5 separate regions of the Homo sapiens genome follow, and all the other regions are linked to region 2. The links come from fine-mapping of genetic effects on gene expression. A gene starts in region 2. Each other region holds a variant in brackets. All regions are shown on one strand. Distances are from middle to middle. Region 1 overlaps SEPTIN9 (septin 9). Region 2 holds the start of SEPTIN9 (septin 9). Region 3 overlaps SEPTIN9 (septin 9). Region 4 overlaps SEPTIN9 (septin 9). Region 5 overlaps SEPTIN9 (septin 9).

What was found. PIP is the estimated chance that this variant, and not a neighbour inherited with it, causes the effect.
Region 1: its variant is the best candidate, but not a certain one, in a credible set for the expression of SEPTIN9 in left ventricle (GTEx, PIP 0.59).
Region 3: its variant is the best candidate, but not a certain one, in a credible set for the expression of SEPTIN9 in whole blood (INTERVAL, PIP 0.63).
Region 4: its variant is the best candidate, but not a certain one, in a credible set for the expression of SEPTIN9 in whole blood (TOPMed, PIP 0.61).
Region 5: its variant is the best candidate, but not a certain one, in a credible set for the expression of SEPTIN9 in whole blood (INTERVAL, PIP 0.80).

The regions. Positions count from the first base shown.
Region 1 is chr17:77,383,098-77,387,212 of GRCh38, forward strand. The region is part of intron 2 of SEPTIN9 (septin 9); the gene reads left to right. Among named protein-coding and RNA genes, the nearest start is that of MIR4316, 12 kb to the right of the region's middle. RefSeq lists an enhancer at 1-525. The variant A/G (reference allele first, on the strand shown) is at 2,214.
Region 2 is chr17:77,279,247-77,283,361 of GRCh38, forward strand. SEPTIN9 (septin 9) reads left to right here and starts at 2,253. Exons shown (of 12, transcript NM_001113491.2): 1 at 2,253-2,308. The coding sequence starts at 2,290. SEPTIN9-DT (SEPTIN9 divergent transcript) reads right to left here and starts at 2,651. Exons shown (of 3, transcript NR_136503.1): 1 at 2,366-2,651. RefSeq lists an enhancer at 335-982 and a silencer at 2,584-2,747.
Region 3 is chr17:77,496,936-77,501,050 of GRCh38, forward strand. SEPTIN9 (septin 9) reads left to right here. Exons shown (of 12, transcript NM_001113491.2): 11 at 380-431; 12 at 1,588-3,658. The coding sequence ends at 1,723. Among named protein-coding and RNA genes, the nearest start is that of MIR4316, 100 kb to the left of the region's middle. RefSeq lists enhancers at 1-41, 42-589. The variant T/C (reference allele first, on the strand shown) is at 2,380.
Region 4 is chr17:77,334,378-77,338,492 of GRCh38, forward strand. The region is part of intron 2 of SEPTIN9 (septin 9); the gene reads left to right. Among named protein-coding and RNA genes, the nearest start is that of SEPTIN9-DT, 55 kb to the left of the region's middle. The variant C/A (reference allele first, on the strand shown) is at 1,874.
Region 5 is chr17:77,368,725-77,372,839 of GRCh38, forward strand. All of the region lies in intron 2 of SEPTIN9 (septin 9), which reads left to right. Among named protein-coding and RNA genes, the nearest start is that of MIR4316, 26 kb to the right of the region's middle. The variant G/A (reference allele first, on the strand shown) is at 1,814.

The sequences.
Region 1 (4,115 bases), 100 kb after region 2:
CTGCCCTGGAGCCAGCTGTTGCCTGCCCTACCCTCCCTCTCTCCCTCCCTCTTTCTTTCCCTCCCTCTTTCTCTCCCTCCCTCCTTCTCTCCCTCCCTCCCTCTTGCATTCTTTGTCTCTGACCCAAGTCCAGGCCCTTCCAGCTGTTCTCTCCTTACCCACAGGCACCTCCTGTGACTGAGCTTCTCCTTGTTATTTTTCATAACCATTTCCTTTAATTGAGCACCTCCTAGGTGCCAGGCCCTGGGCTGGTACTTTGTATACAAGGTGTCTTTTAATCCCCACGAGAGCCCAACAAGGTAGATTGGGCTGCTGAGGCTCCAGCGCTGGAAGGCCGGCCCGGGTCCTCCCAGTCCGCACCTGCATCCATCCATCACTCCCCCACTGTGGAGACCTGTTCCCTGGCCCCTGGCTGAGCACGATGGAAATCTCTGTCTACTAGTCCTTGGAGAGTGGGGATGGCTGAGGGTCCCGACCCTGGGGTCTGACGGGGGCTGCCTCTGCCCCACTTCAGCCTGGCTGCTCTTCCACTCAATGACTGAGTTTGCAAAACCAGAATAACAGTGCTACCTGGCTGGTACTTTGGGTGGCTGGGAGGCGTGGGAGAGGGTGCACGGAGGGGCTGAGCGAGGTGTCAGCATCGTGGGGATCTCCGAGGGTAGCCTTCCCAGGCCCAGGGCGGAGTGTAGGCAGAGGGCGCGATGGCCCAGCGTGCCGGCTCACATCTGGCCTTGCCCTTGCCCACACGGCAATGTGGGGGAGTCATCAGCCTCTCAGTGCCTCAGTTTCCCATCTGTGCAATGGGGACAAGAGTAAATCACTGTCTTCAGGTATGGTAAGCACTCATACACATTGACTATTGCAGAATGAACACAGTGAGCCCTTCTTAGGCTTCTACTACATGCCAGGCAGGGTGCCAGGCCCTAGTGGAGAGGGGACAATGATGGGCAAGCTGGCTCCTGCCCTCAAGGGCTGTCGAGCAGGGAGGAAGGCGGCGGCTGCCCTGACTGTGACCCGGAGTGGGGTGATTCGCAAAGAGGCTGGCGGGAGGCTGGCTGGGGGCTGGCTGGGGGCTGCTCCCTCTCCTGCCTGTGTTCCGTGGCAGGGTATTAAACTGGCTTTTTTCATGGATTTCCGAGGCCCTGACTGTGGGACCTCGGGCAGGTTTTGGGACCTTGTGACTTTGTTCCCGCTTGTCATTCAGGCCTTTGTCCTCAGCAGTGCCCAGCACACGGCGACTTCTGCATGTCCTTCAGTGTGTGACTGACCCTGGAGCTGAGACTTGGCAGCTGAGGCTGGACATTGTCCTTGGATAACTCCCGGGGAGGTGGGGGCAGGGTGGGGCTGTGAGCTGGCAACTCCGAGTCCCTAGCAGCCTCCGAATGGAGGCTTTCCTCTTGTAGGATTCTCGGGGAGGAAGGAGGGGATGGGGGAGATGAGGCTTGTGAGTCTTCAGGAGGGCAGAGGTTCACACCTGCAGCGCCCCAGAAACACTCCGGGGTGCCCAGGCTTACCCAGCCCTCCTGAGCCAGAACCACCAAGAGTTGGGGACCAGCAGTCCATTTTTTAGCAAGATCCAGAAATGATTCTCCTGAACAGTCCGAGCCAAGAATGACATATCTGGAATCAGAACATCAGAACTACAGAGGAATCGAGAGAACGGGCCCAAAATGTGTAGGGACCTCAGCCACATGGCGCCACATGGAGGAAAGCACCCAACATCATCACTGTATGAACCTGTTTAAACACACACACACACACACACACACACACACACACACACACACACACTCCCCAGTAAAGAGTGGAAAGACATTTGTCAGAATATTGATGGAAGTTACCTGGGTTGTGGGTTTATAGATTTTTTCCCTTTGTTTTTGTGCATTTTGCAAATTTTCGGCTTTGTGCCTAAATTCCTTTTACAGTCAGGAACAAAGCAATAGATGTTATTTTTTAAAGTTCATGGGCTCGTGCCCGTAATCCCAACACTCTGGGAGGCTGAGGCAGGAGGATTCCTTAAGCCCAGGAGTTTGAGACCAGCCTGGGCAACATAGGGAGACCCCCACCTTTTTTTTTTTTTTTTTTTGACAGAGTTTCACTGTGTCCCAGGCTGAAGTGGCGGTGGCACGTTCTTGGTTCACTGCAACCTCTGCCTCCCAGGTTCAGGTGATTCTCATGCCTCAGCCTCCTGAGTAGCTGGATTACAGACACTC[A/G]TATTTGTAGGATTTGAGAATCCTACAAGAGGAAAGCCTCCATTCGGAGGCTGCTGGGGACTTGGAGTTGCCAGCTCACATATTTTTTAGTAGAGACAGGGTTTCACCATGTTGACCAGGCTGGTCTCAAACTCCTGTCCTCAAGTGATCCATCCATCTCGGCCTCCCAAGGTTCCAGGATTACAGGCGTGAGCCACTGCGCCCGGCCATGGGAGACCCCCTCTTAAAACAAGAATAAAAATAAAAATAAATAAAAGTTTACTGTCAAAAAGAAAAACACATCACCCAACCTAATCTCCCCCTAGGATTGAGAGATGAGGAAGCAGAGGCCGGAAAGTGTCACATTCCCTGGTCGCTGGCAGTCAGGGGACCTGAGGCCTGGGCTGGTTTTCTCGTGCTCCAGGCCTGGGGTGTCAGGTGGAGCCCCTGCTTTGCCCAAAGGTCTAGGTGCCTCTGCCAGCACTGCTTGCTTCTGCATTTTTGGCCACAAGGAATGTGGGCCAAAGGCAGGGTCCTTGACCTCTGCCCAGGAGGGTGAAGTGGGCTGGTCCTCCTTGTCCCTGCTCCAAGGCCCCTGCGGCTGTGCCTTTGGAAACTGCTGGCCCGAGCTAGTGTGCGGAGCTGGGACAGACCTCACCGTGGCCCTCGTGGGGTCATTCCATGTCCGGGCTGGAAGGGATCTTTCGGTCCAGCCCTTCCTGTTCCTCATCAGGAAACTGAGACCAGAGAGGTCATCTGCCTGGCCCGGGGTGGGGTGTAGATGGCGCTTGTGACTCCTGCATGCCACGTGCAGACAGTCCCTCAGCTGTGGGCTTCCCACGCAAGCAGCCATGCTGGGGATAACTTGGCTGAAACCTGCGATTTAATGAAGAGAAGAATGACTCCTCCTGCAGCCCTGTGCCCCACAGGCTCCCTCCTGCCCCCACCCCTCCTGCAGAGGGGCCTCATGCTGGTGGGTGGGTCCCTGTTGCTGCAATGGGCCCAGGCAGTTTCTGGGCAGTGGAGGCTTGGCTGTCTTCCTGCCCAATGTCCCCTGTAGCCCACGCTGTCCGGGAAGGGCGGGGAAGCACTCAGCCACTGGGGACTTCACAAGATGGGTATCTGGGAGATGCTGATTGGCAGGCCAGGCTCCCGTGGCCCACAGGCAGGTCAGAGGTCACAGTGCTGAGCTGGGCTGAGTTGGCAGCTCAGGGCAGTGGGGGTGGGGGTACCTTGCTCAGCCATGGGCCTCTCTGGCACAAGGGTTTGGAGTTTACTGTAAACAACTCCTTCAGTTTTTCCTTCTCTCATAGGCCACCAGCAGAATTGAGGGGCCCTCTGTTGATGAGGTGTGGCCTGGGAGGGGCTAGTTGTCTGTCCACCTGATCCTTGCGGACAGGTGACCACAGGCTTCCTGCCCCAGGGGGCTGGGGGAAAGATCGGGGAGGCCTCTCTGGCTTCCCCACTTGGAAGGAAAATACGGGCATAGGGGAGACACTTTACAGGGACACATTTCAGCCAGTACCCTCTGGCTGTGCTGGGGGCACAGTGCCTGCCCTGCCCACAAGAGGGGTCAGTTCTCTCCAGGATTTAACTTCAGCCTTCAGTGCAGGGCAGATGAGCACTCAGAGGCCCAGAGGACTCATATCACGAGAGAGAAGCTGTGACCACACAGGCACTGAAGGTTAAGCAGAAGAGTGGGACACACGGGTGACCTGAAAGTCCCAGGGTCAGTGTGGTTAGCCCCAGATAGCTGGGGAGCTTTGGGTACCAGGCTTAGCAGGGGAGGAGGGCCCCCGTGACAGTTTGCTGGGGCTGCTGCAACAAAGCCCCACGAACTTTGGGGGCTGAAGATGGTTCTAGAGGCCAGAAGTCCAAAATCAAGGTGTCGACCAGGCTGATCCTTTGGGGCCTCTGCGGGAG
Region 2 (4,115 bases):
TCTTTAATTTTTCTTTTTTTTTTTTAACTCTAATTTCATGACAGATTAAGCTTCATGCATCTCAAAAATGTGTAGAACCCTCATTCCCAGCCTTCCCTCCCTCTCTCTTGTCCTTCTTTCTGATTTCTTGGAATCGGAAGGAAAATTCGGATATCCAGGAACCATCACACAGGAGGCACCCATGTGATGTGTCCAACATCACTCCACGCAGGTGTCCTTGGGTCCTGGGTGCCCAGGTTCCTGTGAATTGTGACCCCAGGCAGAAGCGTGAGCATCCGCAGAGGAACCCACCTACCCAAAGCCAGGGAACAGCCAGGGCTGGCATCCTCAGGGTGACTGTGCTCCAGGGCACCTCTGACTTGTGCTGAGTAAAATGGACAAAGCCAGCAATGCACCCATAACCCAGATTCTTGAGACACCGCTGGACTTTGGGAATCCCAGGCATTAGGCTCGTGGCAGTGTCATCATGGCTAGGCTGGGGGCAGTGTCATCATGGTGCTTGCTGGCCAAGTCAGGACACGGCCTAAGCCGGAATCTGCTGGTGCTGGTACAAGCGGTGAGTGGGCGTGTGGGTGGGGGTTGCGGTTAGGGTGTGGACATCCCAGAATCCAGGACGCTGTTCACAATTCGTCCATACTCCCTGCTCCCCTCCCTTACAGCACTTCCCTCCCGAGGCCTCCTGAGCCTCTAACCCCCAGATAAGGAAAGGGGTGGACTCAGTTGAAGTCCAGTGTCCACTCCGGTCCAATCAGCTCTACCTGGGGTGAGGGGAAACTCCTCTGGCTGGGCTGCTCCCTCTGCAGGGCTGTGGCTGGACAGATTACTCAAGAAAGGAAGCAGGTGGGCCGGAACGAACCCACGGTGCCACATAGGCCTCCGTTCTCATGCATATAAGTTTCCCACACTCAGGCAGGAAATGAAAATGCTTCTTGGACCCCCAAGGAGAGTAAAGGAGAGGGGAAGAGGAGGAGGATTTTTCGGGGCTGTTAGTGACACTTTCAGCCTCCTGTGCATTTTTGGGAGGGCTGCAGGAGAAGGCAATGCTGCGCCCCTACCCAGAACTAGCGAGCGCTTCCCAACTGGCCTCCCGCCTTCCTCTCGTCCTCTACGGCCTCCATTGGCAGCTGTGCAAGGGCCCGGCCCTGCCTCTGTCTCTCCACACTCGCTGTGATACCTCAGGCCTCCCAGGCTCCGCCACGCCCTTCCCTCTTTCGGGAACAGCTGCCTTCCATCACCTTGGCTGCCTGGCTAATTCCTGCTCATTCCTTAAAACCCTGTTTTGATTTCGCCTCAATAAAACTCTGACACCACCCTCCAGTCATAATTAGTCACTTCTTCCTCTGTACGTTGGAAACACCGCTTTATCGTGGAGACTTTAAGGATATCCAAGTAGAGAGAATTCTTCCGTGCAAGTTTTGCATCCTCTCACCACTGCCTGCGTTACCCGAGTTGTAAAGGGCGGCTCCCTGTGTCTGCCCCGCTGCACCGATACACCGAGCTGCGCACGGTGCCCAGCGCAGGGAGAACAAATGATCATCTGTCCAACGCGCCCATTTACAGGTGAGGAAACTAAGGCTCCAACTCAATCGACGCACTCTGCCCTTTTGATTACCAGAAAAGTAGCAGGACAGGTGTCCTGTCCCGCCCTACCCCGGCCCACTAAGCCGGCACCCCGGCTCCGACCCCCGGCTGTGCCCGGCGCCGCCGCGGTGCCCGGCGCCGCCGCCTCGCCCGGCGGGGCCGCCCGGAGCGCCCGCACCTCCGCCCGCTTCCACCTGGCCGGGCCCGCCCCGCCCGGACTCGGGACTGGGAAGTGCGGCGACTCCCGGAACCAGCCATTGGCGCCAGCGCGGGGAGCTGGGGGTGCAGAGCTGCGGGCGCGGCGGGCCACGCAGGCGGCCCCCACCCCCGGCCTGGCCTGGTCTGGTCTGGTCTGCGCTGCCGCGCGGGGGCGCCCCCTCCCAGGCCCGGCGCCCGCCAGCCCCGCTCCGCCAGGTGCAGCGCAGCGCAGGGGTGGGCGGGGGTGGGGCTCGGCGCGCACGTTCACGGGGCGGGGAGGGGGCGGGTCAGGGGCGGGACCACAGCCGGCTGGGCCGGGGTTCTATGCGCATCTCCGGGGAGGGGCGGGGCGGGGGCGGGGCCGGGGCGGGGCCCGGTCGGTGCACTCCAGACGGCGGGCCGCCCCCTCTTCCCGCCTTCCTACTACCGGCCCAGGATTAGCGCCCTGGGAGCGCGCGCCCCGCTGCCTCGCCGCCACACTTTCCTGGGAGCGGCGGCCACGGAGGCACCATGAAGAAGTCTTACTCAGGTGGGCTTCGCGCCCGGGGTGGGGAGGGGTCGGTGTCCCGGGACCAGCGCTGCTCACCTGAGTGCCTGCGGCCGGGAGTGGCGAGGCGCCCCCGGAGCTGAGCGAGTCCCCGCGGCGGGCACACTGCAGGTCGAGTTCCTCCCAGGACAGGGCCGCTGTCGGGCCGCTTTCGACCTGAGCCGACCGTCCCCTGCGCTGTCTCCAGCCCTTGCTCGAGTGTCGGAGGGGCTGCCCTGGGGGACGCTCCCTCTTCCTCGCCCCTTGCACCCTCGCAGGAATCGCTGACTTTCCAGGTCGGCCGGGTGCTTTGGGTCCCTGTGCGTCTGTGTGGGTGAATGGGGTCGGGGCTAGGTGGAGGGGTGTCCTTGGGTTCAGCCTCTAGGGCTGGTGGTCCAGGCCGCAGCATCCTTTCTTCGGATTCTCTTCGGTTTCTCCTCTACTTAGTGGGGCACGGGACGGCCTCCAGATGGGACCGTCCAGCAGCGCCCAAACTTGGCGACTCGGGTTCACGTTTTGCGCTCAGGACGCCGCCCGCGGCTGACATCCTCACTCCACCCTAGCAGGGCCCGCCTTAAGTAGGCGAAGGGGGCCTGACTTGGGCCTCACCATGAGCCGGTTCAGGAGCTTTCATTTCATAAGAGGCTCCCGCTCTGGCACTCTGAAGTTCCATTTCACAGATGGGCACACCGAGGCCACAAGGGCAGGTTAAGAGAAATCCAGATCTTCATTATTTGTCTTTTCCTTCCTTTTTTTTTTCCTTTGTGGTTTTCTCCAAAGGATCCAGGCAGGCAGGATCCTTTGTCCTCCTCAGTCCTCAAATTATAAATAGCGTCTCCTCTTCTAAATCTAGAAACCGTTTGTTTAATGTCCCTCCTTTAATTCATTCAGATAGAAAGGTACCTGCCAAGGATCCATGAATTAATTTTTATTGATAGGAGAACAGAATCATGGGCCTTAGTTGGAGGTGAAGGAGTCATCGGGGCCATCCCCCTGCCTTTGGGCCATTGTCGGTTTCCTCTGGCTTTCCATATTTAGGAACCAAAATGAGTGATAAAGTACCTTGTCTCAAAGAGGATTACTCAGAACTTCCCCGAAAATACCCTTCTGGGTCAGTAGCTTAGAATTTCAACTTTCACCCGGTTGTTGCGAACAAGATGGCCCTCTACGCACCCGGAGCACAGCTCTGTCAGGAGCGTGGGTGGGTTGGTGTGCTGGTGGGCGGGAGCGGGCTTCCAGGTGGCACATGCTTGGTTTTGGCACCGGGGCTTCCTCCCCAACATGCTCCAAATACTTGAGATTGTTGTGGGGATCGCGCGGTGCATGGCCCTTTCCAGGGGATCTCTAGCCCGCCCAGGGAGGGCCCTTTGCCCTTGGTTTCTTACACTTTACCTCCCACTGGTGGGTCCAGACAGTGGGGGTGACCGGGGTCCTCCCAGGTCGTGGGTCCTGGGTTTTTTCTGCGGAGACCCTCCTGCACAGATGCCGGAAGGGCCCTGAGGCAGGCTTGGAGTCTCTGCACCTGCGGCTTACTGGGAGGTGGGGAGACCATCACTTGTCCTTTTCTCCTCTCCTCCACACACACCTACCCCACCCCTCACTGGGTTTCTTTTTTTTTTTTTTTTTTAAAAAAAAGGACAGAACCTTTTGCAGTAGGTGGAAGTAGAGTTTGTGGAGTGAGCAGGAACCAACTCTTGTACAGCAGCCTCGGTGCCTCCTTGTGTTTACCTAAAGGGGCAGGCCCCTCTGAGGATGGGGGAAGGGAGGGCTCAGACCATTTCTGGTTTGCTCCCTGCTTGGCAGTGGCCCA
Region 3 (4,115 bases), 220 kb after region 2:
GGGACGTCCTGCTCTCCCTGGTCACCCCAGTGGTGCGGGGGCCCACTGCCCTGGCTTCTCCACTGTGGCTTCCTTCCATGCTCCTATTTGGCCTGGTCACTGTGCCATCTCCCATTAGCCAGGAACTTTCTGGAGAGCAGGAGCTGAGCTGTCCAGGAGCAGGAGCTGGTGCTGGTCACTCCAGTATCCCCCAGACTGAGGGCAGTGCCAGGTGTCCTATACTCAGCTGCAGAGCAGGTGGTTCCCCTGCCCTCCTGCCCATGGGGCTGCCCTCAGACTCTGCTTTTGGCACCAGCATTTCTGGGCAGGGGGAGAGAGGTGGGGTCCGGGCAGAGTTTCTCCACTGGGACATTAAAGCCCCTCCTGTCTCCTCTCCTAGTTGAAAACACCACACACTGTGAGTTTGCCTACCTGCGGGACCTTCTCATCAGGTGAGAGACAGGGTGCTTGGGTGGGGCTGACGGCTTCACCCCTAAGAGGGCCCTACAGCGGGTGGGGGCAGTGGGTGTGGGGCCGAAGCCCTGGGCAGAGTGGGTGCCCCCTGCCACCTGCCTGCCCTGCCCTCGGGAAGATCTTGGAAGCCCATCTTCTGAAAAAGAAAACCCACTGGGAAATGAAGCAGGCAGTGAAGATCCTTTTCAACCCCTGCGAAGTTGGCTGGATGGGAAGGCTGAGCTTTGATCCACTGTGGTCTGGCCCGTTAGAGCTGCCCGGTGGCCACTAAGGGCCCAGTGAGGCCTCATGTGCAGGCCCTGCCGGCAGCGTGGGGCGTCTCCAGCTCCGATCCCACTGGCCTCTGACCCCTACCCCTTTCACCTGGCTGAGGCTTCTCCTTGTTTCCCTTGAGTCCAGGCAAGGAGGGGAAGCCCTGATGGAGAGGGTGCTGGGTGGGTGGTCCCTGGAGTGTGGGCCCTGGCCTGGGCAGGTTCTTCCTCAGCAAGCAGCTGGCATGGATGATGGGAATGTTATCAAGAGGAGGGGCCTCCAGGTTGGCGGGGGCAGGGGTGGGGGGATTCCGGGAGCCGTTCTGCCATTGTGGGGATACTGGGCTTTCCAACCTCCCTCCAGATTATTCCTCCTGAGCTGCAGAGGAATGAAAATCCGAGCCCAGGACTTTTTTTTCCTGGGGACAAGGGCAACCCAGCCCTTTGCCCCAGGCCACCTGCCTGCCACAGGCCATAGTCCTGGAGGCCGGTGGTCACCCACTGCTTCCACCCTGCCAGCACCCTGGACACCGGCCTGGAGCAACAATGCTCCAGCCCTGTCCCTCTGAGTCTATGCACTGTCCCTGGGCCCTGGACCCAGGGCCATAGGGTGGACCCAGAGGGAGACACATGCACTGGAATATGTGTGTTCTGACCGAGTCTGGGCTTACCAGGGGGACTGACCCTTCCCCCAAAACGTGTACCAGATCTGGTCCAACATGGTGGGCCTGGGGGACCCCATGGGGAGCCAAGCAGTCGGGATGGGGAGTGGGGGTGGGGGCAGGCGGGCCTGAGTCCGAGGCAGGCCGAGCAGGGCCCCTGCCCCGCTGCCCCCACCCCGCTGCGCCCACCTCACTGACCCGCCCGCCCCCCACCCCCACAGGACGCACATGCAGAACATCAAGGACATCACCAGCAGCATCCACTTCGAGGCGTACCGTGTGAAGCGCCTCAACGAGGGCAGCAGCGCCATGGCCAACGGCATGGAGGAGAAGGAGCCAGAAGCCCCGGAGATGTAGACGCCACCCTGCCCACCCCCGGGATCCTGCCCCCAAGTCATTTCCGTCCCCCCCCAGGCCCTCCCACCACCCCATTTTATTTTATATGATTTTCTCCATTTGTCATCGTTCCCCACCCCTTCGACATGCTGCCAGGAAACAAGGGAAGGGGCCTCCCTCCGAGTGAGTCAGTGATGAGGCCGCGGCCTCCCCGAGGTTGTGGGGAGGCTGCACTGGAGCCACAGGCAGGGGTGAGAGCACCCACTGAATTGACATGACCCTCTGTCCCCAGGCCTGGCTCCCCGAGGGCTCAGAAGAGCAGCTTCGGTGTGCAGATCATCCGTCTGTGTGGGGTTCTCAGTGCCGGAGGCCTTGGGGTGGGGGCCAGGCCTCGCACTTGCAGAGGAGCCCAGTGGGCTGCACGCTCCCCTCCATCCCCATCGGCCCTGTCCCCTGGAGTGTGTCAGAGCCCAGGGGAGAATGCAGCCCACCAGGAGCACCTGGACCCCCTGCCCGCCACATGGTGTGGCCATCACTCAGCCCCTACCCCTGCCCTGCTCCTAAGGGTAGAAAACTCCAGGGTCCCCTGCCACCGACTGCCCAGCCACTCCAAGCCCCCTGGCAGCTGCCCCTCCTGGAGCAGAAAGTGCCTTTATCTCAGCCATCCGCAGACTGCT[T/C]GGCCAGATGCGGGGACAGGCTGGAATGAGGGAGGCGTCTTCATCTCCCTGCCATCCCCCTCTCACGCCACCCCCGCCCCCACCGGGCTGCAGGTGCTGCTGATGCGCTGGGATCTGATTGAGGATAAAAAGGAAGGAGAGATGACCCCTACCCCCTCATCCCCCAGTTTTGAAAAGGTCTAAGCAAGTGAGTCTGGTGGAGGAGCTGAGGGAGGGAGCCATGGAAGGTGCCAGAAGGAAGGTTGGCGGGGGCACGTGTGGGCCGTGGCTTGGGCTGGTCAGAGTGGCGTGAGCTGCCCGGCGCCTGCCCTGCCCAAGTGACCAGGGAAGTGTGTGTGTGTCCATGTGTATGCGTGTCCGTCTGTCTGTCTAGTGTCTGGGTTTGGCCCAAGACTGGGCTGTAGTTACATTAATGCCCAGCCAGCCACCCCTGCCACTCACCCTTCCTGGCCCAGGCCTTGCTGACTCTCTGAGCTGGGGAGGTGGGAGGCCAGGCGAGCCTGACTCTGTTGATCTACCCGTGCCTGGGCCCCTCCCCTCAGAGCCCATGGTAACGAACCCCTAGAAAGGAGAGAACGGGCGTCAGGGGTGCACAGTCCACAGCTGAAGAGCAAGGTTTCGTGGCAGCACGGCCCGGCCCCTCACCCTCTGTCCCCACGAGGGGACCCATGGGGGCTGTCTTTGCAGGGCACAGATGACCAAAGTCCCTTCCTGCTTCCTGTTACCTGTCTTGCTCCTGGGGAGAAAGAGGGGCCTGATGAGACTCCACTCAGGTGCACACATCACCAGGTGCATCTGCAGGCACCGGGCTGGCTGCTTGCAGCCAGGAGAAGGTCAGCGAGAAGGAGTGTATGAGTGTGAGTGTGTGTGCATGGAAGTTGGGGCACTGGGCGTCTGACTCCCTCCCCACCCAAGAGAGGAAGGACCCCTCACCACCCCCACTGGTGAGACAGTTTACTTTGCCAACTTGCCATGTTTTTGCCAAAACCAAGATTTTGAAGGAAATGAGTGGCCAGCGCCAGGGCCCAGGCCATGTGGCCTGCCCAGCCTCAATGTCACTTGGTGGCGGGGTGGGGTGGGGGTGGGCAGCAGCATCCCAGCCTTGAGATGCTTCACTTTCCTTCTCTGTAACCAGACTTTGAAAAATTGTTCGTTTCATCAGGCTCTGTTCCTCAATGGCCTTTTGCTACGTGCCTCCCGAGAAATTTGTCTTTTTGTATAAATGACAAAGTGTTGAAAATGTATTTCCTGAAATAAATGTTTCAAATGCAGAAACCCAGAAGGCTCCTGAGTGAGAATGTTTTTTCTGCCCCTGAAGTGCAGTTCTTTGGGCCTCGGGACAGGTTGGGGTCAGCTGCAGGTGGGCAAGAAGCATGGGCAAGAAAAGGTAGGCCGGGCGCGGTGGCTCACGCCTGTAATCCCAGCACTTTGGGAGACTGAGGCAGTTGGATCACAAGGTGAGGAATTTGAGACCAGCCTGGCCAATATGGTGAAACCCCGTTTCTACTAAAAATACGAAAATTAGCTGGGCATGGTGGTGGGCGCCTGTAGTCCCAGCCACTCGGGAGGCTGAGGCAGAAGAATCGCTTGAACCCCGGGAGGTAGAGGTTGCAGTGAGCCAAGATCATGCCACTGCACTCCAGCCTGGGCGACAGAGCAAGATGCCATCTCAAAAAAAAAAAAAAAAGAAAAGGTAAGGCCAGGTCAGATCTCGAATTCAGACTCCCAAGATTTGA
Region 4 (4,115 bases), 55 kb after region 2:
CACCACTGCACTCCAGCCTAGGTGACAGAGCAAGACTCTGTCTCAAAAAAAAAAAAAAAAAAAAATGTTGTTTCATATGTTTTTTATATATTCTGGATATAAGTCCTTTATCAGATATATGTATCATAAGTTTTTTTTTCCACATTGCTCCTTTCCTTTTGGTTTTCTTAATGATGTTATTTAATGAGCAAGAGTATTTTGTTTTCATAAAGTCCAATTTATCAACTTTTTCCAGTTTCGATTTATGATTTTTGTGACCTATGGAGGAAATCTTTGCCTACACTAAGGTCAAAAGAAGTTCTCTTATTTTCTAGAAATTTTATAGTTGTATATTCTATGATTCCTTTTATTTTTTAATTTTTTAAATTTTTACATTTTTTAACCTATTATAGCCGTCAGGATGTTGTATGATCCATTTTAAATCAGTTTTTGTATTTGGTTTGAGGTCAGGGTTAATTCTTGTTTTTCTATACTCATATCCAGTTCTAGCACCGTTTGTTGAAAAGACATACCTTACTCTATTGAATTACCTGACACCTTTGCTAAAAATCATTGACTGTATATGTGGCCCTATATTAGTATATGTACGTATATACATGTAGGCCCTGTGTTGACTGTATGTGTGGTCCTATATTAGTATATGTACGTATATACATATTGGCCCTATGTTGACTGTATATGTGGTCCTGTATTAGTATATACATATCAGCCCTATATTGACTGTATATGTGGTCCTGTATTAGTATATGTACATATATACATGTAGGCCCTATGTTGACTGTATATGTGGTCCTATATTAGTATATGTACATTTATACATGTAGGCCCTGTGTTGACTGTATATGTGGTCCTGTATTAGTATATGTACATATATACATATAGGCCCCGTGTTGACTGTATATGTGGTCCTGTATTAGTATATGTACATATATACATGTAGGCCCCATGTTGACTGTATATGTGGTCCTGTATTAGTATATGTACATATATACATATAGGCCCCGTGTTGACTGTATATGTGGTCCTGTATTAGTATATGTACATATATACATGTAGGCCCCATGTTGACTGTATATGTGGTCTTGTATTAGTATATGTACATATATACATGTAGGCCCTATGTTGACTGTATATGTAGTCCTATATTAGTATATGTACATATATACATGTAGGCCCTATGTTGACTGTATATGTAGTCCTATATTAGTATATGTACATATATACATGTAGGCCCCATGTTGACTGTATATGTGGTCCTGTATTAGTATATGTACATATATACATGTAGGCCCTATGTTGACTGTATATGTGGTCCTGTATTAGTATATGTACATATATACATGTAGGCCCTATGTTGACTGTATATGTGGTCCTGTATTAGTATATGTACATATATACATGTAGGCCCTATGTTGACTGTATATGTGGTCCTGTATTAGTATATGTACATATATACATGTAGGCCCTATGTTGACTGTATATATATATGTGGTCCTGTATTAGTATATGTACATATATACATGTAGGCCCCGTGTTGACTGTATATGTGGTCCTGTATTAGTATATGTACATATATACATGTAGGTCCTATGTTGACTGTATATGTGGTCCTATATTAGTATATGTACTGTATACATGTAGGTCCTATGTTGACTGTATATGTGGTCCTATATTAGTATATGTACTGTATACATGTAGGCCCTGTGTTGAGACACTATTGTGTTTTCTTGATATTTTGTCCATTCCTTTGCTGATGCCACATCTTGATTAATGTGGCTTTACAGTAAGTCTTAATATAAAGTCTCTCAAATATCTAAAATATTACTTTGAATATTCTAGGTCCTTTGAGTTTCCTTATAAATTTAAGAAGTAG[C/A]TTGTTGATGTCTACAAAAATGCAGTGTGAATTTTGGTTGAGATTGTGTTGAATCTGTAGATCAATTAAGGAAGAATTGGCATTTTAACAATATTGAGTCTTTTGTATAGATGGTATATCTCCGTTTTAAAGGTCCTTTTGTATTTCTTTTATTTCTCTACTGAAAAAAAATCTCTACAGAATTACATTGTTTTGTAGTTTTCAAGAAAAAGATCTTGCATGCCATTTGTTAAATTTATTCCTAAGAATTTTACTTTTGGCACTATTTTAAGCTGAAATAGATTTTAAATTTCATTTTTAATTATTTGCTGCTAGTATGTAAAAATACAATAGATTTTTGTATGTAAATCTTATATCCTATGATCTTTTCCAAAGTCATTTATTACTCTGGTAATGGTTTTGTAGGTCTTTTAGGATTTAAATACATAGTTTTACTTCTTTCTGATCTTGATGCCTTGTTTTTTTTTCTTGCTTTATTGCACTGGTTAGAGCTGCCAGTTCAGTATTGAATAGTAGTGATTAGTGGACATCCTTGCCTGTGCCAAACTTATAATGTTAACTTTAGATTTGTCATATATGACCTTTGTCAGATTGAGGAAATTCCCTTCTATTCTTAATTTGCTGAAATTTTTTAACATGAATGGGTATGATTTTAGTAAATGCTTTTTCTGCATCTATGGAAATGATCATTGTTTTGTCTTTTATTCGTTTAATAGGATAAATTACAATGATTGATTTTTGCCCCCCGTTTTTTTTTTTTTTTTTTTTAAAGAAACAGAGTCTCACTCTTGCCCAGGCTGTAGCACAGTGGTGCCATCGTAGCTCACTGCAGCCTGAACTCCTGGACTTAAGCAATCCTCCCACCTCAGCCTCCTAAGTAGCAGGGACTATAGGCACATGCCACCATGCCAAGCTAATTTTTAATTTTTAAAATTTTTTGTACAGATGGGGTCTCATTGTGTTGCTCAGGCTGGTCTGCAATTCTTGAGCTTAAGCAATACTCCCACCTCTGCCTCCCAAAGTGCTGAGATTACAGGTGTGAGCCACTGTGCAGGCCTGATTTTTTAATATTGAACCAACCTTGCATTTCTGGAAGAAGTCCAACTTGCTTATGAGATATCATCCTTTTTATATATTGCTAAATTTGATTTGCCCAGTTTTTAAGGATTTTTGCGTGTTGATTCATGAGGGATATTGGTGTGGTATTTTCTTTGTTTGTTAGTTTGTTTCGGTAATGTCTTTGTCAGCCTCATTTTGGCTTCATAAAATTAGTTTGGAAGTGTTCCCTTCTCTTTGTTTTCTGTGTTTTCATAAGGTTGATGTTGTTTCTTCCTTAAATGTTTGATAGAATCCACCAAGAAAACCGTCTGGACCTAGAATTTTCTACTAGGAAAGGTGATTGTTTGTTTTTAATCACAAATTCAATTTAATGTATAGAAAGAGTTATTCAGGTTTTTTTACTTCCCCTTGTCTTACTTTTGGTAAGTTGTACTTTGAAGGAATTTGTCCCTTTCAGGTAAGTTGTTGAATTTACTCATTTAAAGTTGTTCGTAATACAAGCATACCTAGGGTTTGCTTCCAGACCTCGGCAATAAAGCAAATATTGCAATAAAGCACGTCACACAAACTTTTTGGTTTCCCAGTACATATAAAAGTTATGTTTAGGCCAGGCATGGTGGCTCATGCCTGTAATCCTAGCCCTTTGGGAGGCCAAGGTGGGCGGATCATTTGAGGTTAGGAGTTTGAGAACAGCCTGGCCAACATGGTGAAACCTCATCTCTATTAGAAATACAAAAATTAGCTGGGTGTGGTGGCACATGCCTGTAGTCCCAGCTGCTTGGGAGGCTGAGGTGGGAGAATTGCTCGAACCTGGGAGGTGGAGGTTGCGGTGAGCTGAGATCACACCACTGTACTCCAGACTGGGTGACAGGGCGAGACTCCATCTCAAAAAAAAAAGAAAAAAGTTATGTTTACACTATACTATAGTCTATTAAAGTGTATAAGATCATTATGTCTTTTTGCTAAAAAATGCTAATAATCATCTGAGCCTTCAGCAAGCCATAATCTTTTTCTTGGTAGAAGGTCTGCCTCAATGTTGATGGCTGCTGACCAGGTGGTGGTTGCTGAAAGTTGAAGGTAGCTGTGGCAGCAGTTTCTTTGTTTCTTTTTTCTTTTTCTTTTTTTTTGAGACAGAGTCTTGCTCTATTGCCCAGGCTGGAGTGCAGTGGCACGATTTCAGCTC
Region 5 (4,115 bases), 89 kb after region 2:
ATTAAGCAAAACATTAAAAAATTACTTATAAGTAATTATATTTAAAACAAAAGATAATAAATACACAACTTTCATCACCTCTTAGGTTTTTTGCAACATTTAACTATTGTCTGTCCTGTTGCGGTTATGTTCTTGAGGTTGTATTTGTATGATAGAAACACTATATTCGTGGTGACTAAACATCTCTTCTCAGTCTCACCTCCAATGATGTCATACAGATAACTTGAAATTGGCCGGCTGGGCACGATGGCTCATGCCTGTAATCCCAGCACTTTGGGAGGCCAAGGCAGGCAGATCATCTGAGTTCAAAACCAGCCTGGCCAGCAGGGTGAATCCTCATCTCTAGTAAAAATACAAAAATTAGCCAGGAGTGGTGGCGGGTGCCTGTAATCCGAGCTACTTGGGAGGCTGAGGCAGGAGAATCACTTGAACCTGGGAGGTGGAGTTTGCAGTGAGCCAGGATTGCCCCACTGCACTCCAGACCGGGTGACAGAGTGAGACCCTGTCAAAAAAGAAAAGAAAAGAAAGAAATTGGCCAAGGCAGGAATATTGACACCACAGGAATAGGCAAGCGCTACAAATCGGGAAACTGAGTGTTGTTGCTTTTGCTGGCCCCAGGTGGCCGGTTGTTGACCGTTAACTGGCACACTACTGGAGGAGGGAGGTTCAGACTGATTCGCAGAGAGACTAGAGGTAGAAACGCACCATGGTTTGGATGCTGAGGGTGAGGGAAAGAGAGGAGTCAACAGTGGTGCCCGGAGACTTGGCTTGAGCAACTAGGTGGATGGTAGCACCGTTTCCTAAGATGAGGGGCTGTGGGAACTTGAGGGGCTGTGGAAGGCTCTGCCACTGACGGACCCAGGGCTCGGCAGCTCTGGGAGGCCTACTTTGTGTCAGGCCACGCAGAGATAAGACCATCTGGGCCCTGCCCTTGGGAAGTCTCTGTCTATGAGGACACAGCCTGCCACCTAATGGGGTGTCCCGTCTGGAGCCTCAGTGTTGCTGGGAGAAAGCCCCTCACCTTCCTTCGCTCTCCGAGCCTCTTTTGCTTCCCTGCCAGCTGAGCCTCTCCATGGAGGCTGTGCCTGGAGGGGGGTCATGGATATGGATGTGTGCGCCAAACGCTGCTTCCTCGTGGATTTCCTCCCCACTCCGTTCCCACGCTTTGTAAGCTTCATTTCCCCGGGGCCTGACCTGTGGGGTTTCTCTCCAGACCTGCTCCTTCCCATTTCCAGAAAGGCGTGCAGGGGTTTCCTATGGCTCTCTTCCCTGTCCCCATCCCCCTTCCCTTGGGACAGTGATCTGCTGGACGGGTGGGCTACCCACAGGGTTTGTGATTGCTTAGACATCTTTGCTGTATGAAGCTTTGACCTCAAGGCATGATGCAGATGGGAATAAGGCACGAGTTTCTCCTGGCTGCTGTAACAACTGTCGAAACTGGGTGGCTTATAGCAAGGGGAATGTGTCCTCTCACAGTTCTGGAGGCCAGAAGTCTGAAATCAAGGTGCCAGCAGGGCCAGCTTCCTCTGAAGACTCCAGGGGAAAACCTTTCTTTGCCTCTTCCAGCTTCTGGTGGCCCCAGGTGTTCCTTGGCCTGTGGCTGCATCACTCCGGTCTCTGCCTCTGTCTTCACAAGGCCTTTTTCTGTGTCTCTGTACTTTCTTTTCTGTCTCTTAGAAGGACACAGCATTGAATTTAGGGCCCACCTTATCTTGAGATCCTTGCCTAAATTCTTTCTGCAGAGACCCTTAAACAGAATCAGGTCACATTTGAGGTTCCAAGTGGGCATATCTTTGTTTTGGGGGGGATCACC[G/A]GCCCACTGTAGGTCTCGTTGTGCACTGAAGACGCAGGCGGTCCCTTTGGCCAGGCCTGCAGTCGGTCTTGCCTTCTTTTGTGACCGTGGAAGAATGCACCTTGCTGGATGCACAGGCCTTTATAGTTCTTTTGTTCTTGCCAAATTTCAGCTCAGTTTCCTCTCTGCTGCCGGCGTGCATCTTCTCTGCCCAGTGCCCCTTCTGGGACTGTGTGTCCAGGCCCTGAGGCCCTAGAAAAGGGGGGTGGAGGGCCTCCTCACTATCCTGTAGCAATGAGGCCTCATTAAAATCCTGGAGCCCCAGACTGGACCCAGCCCTTAGCTATGATCAAAGGACAGCTCGGGATATGATTAAAGGGCTAGAGAAAGATGATTTAGGCTGAGAAAGAGGAGGCCAAGGAGCAACTGGATTGTCCTTGAATGTGGAAAAGGTAATTATGACTTGAAGGGTGGTGCCCAGCTGTTTCCCATCTCCTCTGAGGACAGGAAAAAAAAGGAAATAAATGATGTACAATTAGAGCAGTTGGTTAGATACGAGGGTGAACTTCCTGGCTGGGAGTATGGCCAAGCCCTGATTTGGGTTTCCTGAAAGAGCTCGGGGAACCTCCTTACCTGGAGGTTTCTAGGCCTGGTCATGTGGCTCTGAGTGATTACATTGAAGGGGCAGTGGCTGGGGCTGGAGCCGGTGGGCTCTGAGCACAGTCACGAAGGCATGCGCACTTTCTGGCTGCTCTCCTGCCATTGTCCCTTGGGTTCCCATTTTGGTGAGGCGTGCACCCTGGCGGCGCTCCCCAGGGAACTAAATATGTTTGCTGCACTGTGCGTGGAGATGGAGAATGTACAATTGGCTGACCCTGTGCTAATCTGGTGGAACTCCATGCCAGCCCTGGGAAAGAACAATTGCATGGGTGTGTCCACACTCACCAGGTGCTTTTTAGAAAAACACTCGAGAATAATGCTGTGGCTTAGGATGGCTGTTGTGCCGGACCCGGCATCTTCCCAGGGGGGCTGTGTTGTTGGGCTGAGTTTCTTAGGTACTGGACCCCCAAATCCCCAAATACGGCGTGGACAGGTGGCCCAGTAGGGGCTGGACTATCCGATAGGCCCAGGTGCTGGAGTTCAGACAAGACATACCCTGGCCTGGCGTGGAAGATACGGGGTGCTATTAATGGCAGCAATGGCTGCATTTCTGAAACCCGGGCTCCCAGGCCGACGAGGGTGTGCACGCATCTGAAATGTCTGTGGTTTTGCAGTTCCCATGTCCACAAACTCACTTGGTTGAAAATAGTTCAAAATATCCAAAGCATGAGGGAGGGAGTGCCTGCTTTTCTTAAAAAGGAAGGACTTGATTTCATCTACTTAAAAAGCCACCCAAACCTAGAACATTTTCCGCAAGAGACCCCCTGCCCCCCGCCTCTCCAGAATGGCTGGAGAGTCTCAGCACTCCTGCACATTTGGGATATTTCAGAGGGGGTGGGGAGGGGCAAGTGGGCAGCGAGCGACCTCAGACCCAGGATGAGCTGTCAGGCGCTCCCCGGCCACACATTCAAGGGACCGGAGTGCAGTTGTAGCGTTGCGGCCTGCTGCTTCGGGGGTGGGGGTGTTGTTCCATGCTGTGAATTCTCACATGGCCCCTGACTCTGGGCAGAGGCCGAGGGTCTAAGGGACGGGGTGACAGGGAGAGCATGCAGGAGTGGGTTTCTGGCTTTCCAGGGCGAGTGGAAGAAGCGCCTCTCTCTCTTGTAGGTGACAGACCTGGGGGGCCCTTCTTGAGGATGAGAGCCTGTTGCTTCTCAAGTTCTGTGTCTAACCCAGGTCCCCAGGTCTACCCCAGCCCCTCGGCCCTGCCTGCCTTGTGGATGATATAGTTTAAGGGTAGAGACCGCTGGCCTGGAGGGAAGGCTAGGCCTCAGGTTAGGGCCCAGAAGGGAGGGAGAAGCCCTTGGGGCAGCTCCCTTTCTGCTCACTCACTGCCTAGCTCCTTCCTTCACACCTTCCTTCGGAAACGTCTGCTCCTGACAAGGTCTACTTCCTGCTCTCAGGAGGCCCTTATTGTGGAGGAAGGGAGGCGTCGCCCGTCCCTGGCTTCTCTGACAGCCGTGTTCCATCCCCGCCCTGTGCCCCTTCTCCCGGACAGTGCCTTCTCCAGGGCTCACCCAGGAGGGTGCAGCGGTGGCCCCCGGGGCGGTGGTCGTGGTGGGGGTGTTAGCTGCAGGGGTGCCCTCGGTGGGTGGGAGTTGGTGGCCTCTCGCTGGTGCCATGGGACTCGCATGTTCGCCCTGCGCCCCTCGGCTCTTGAGCC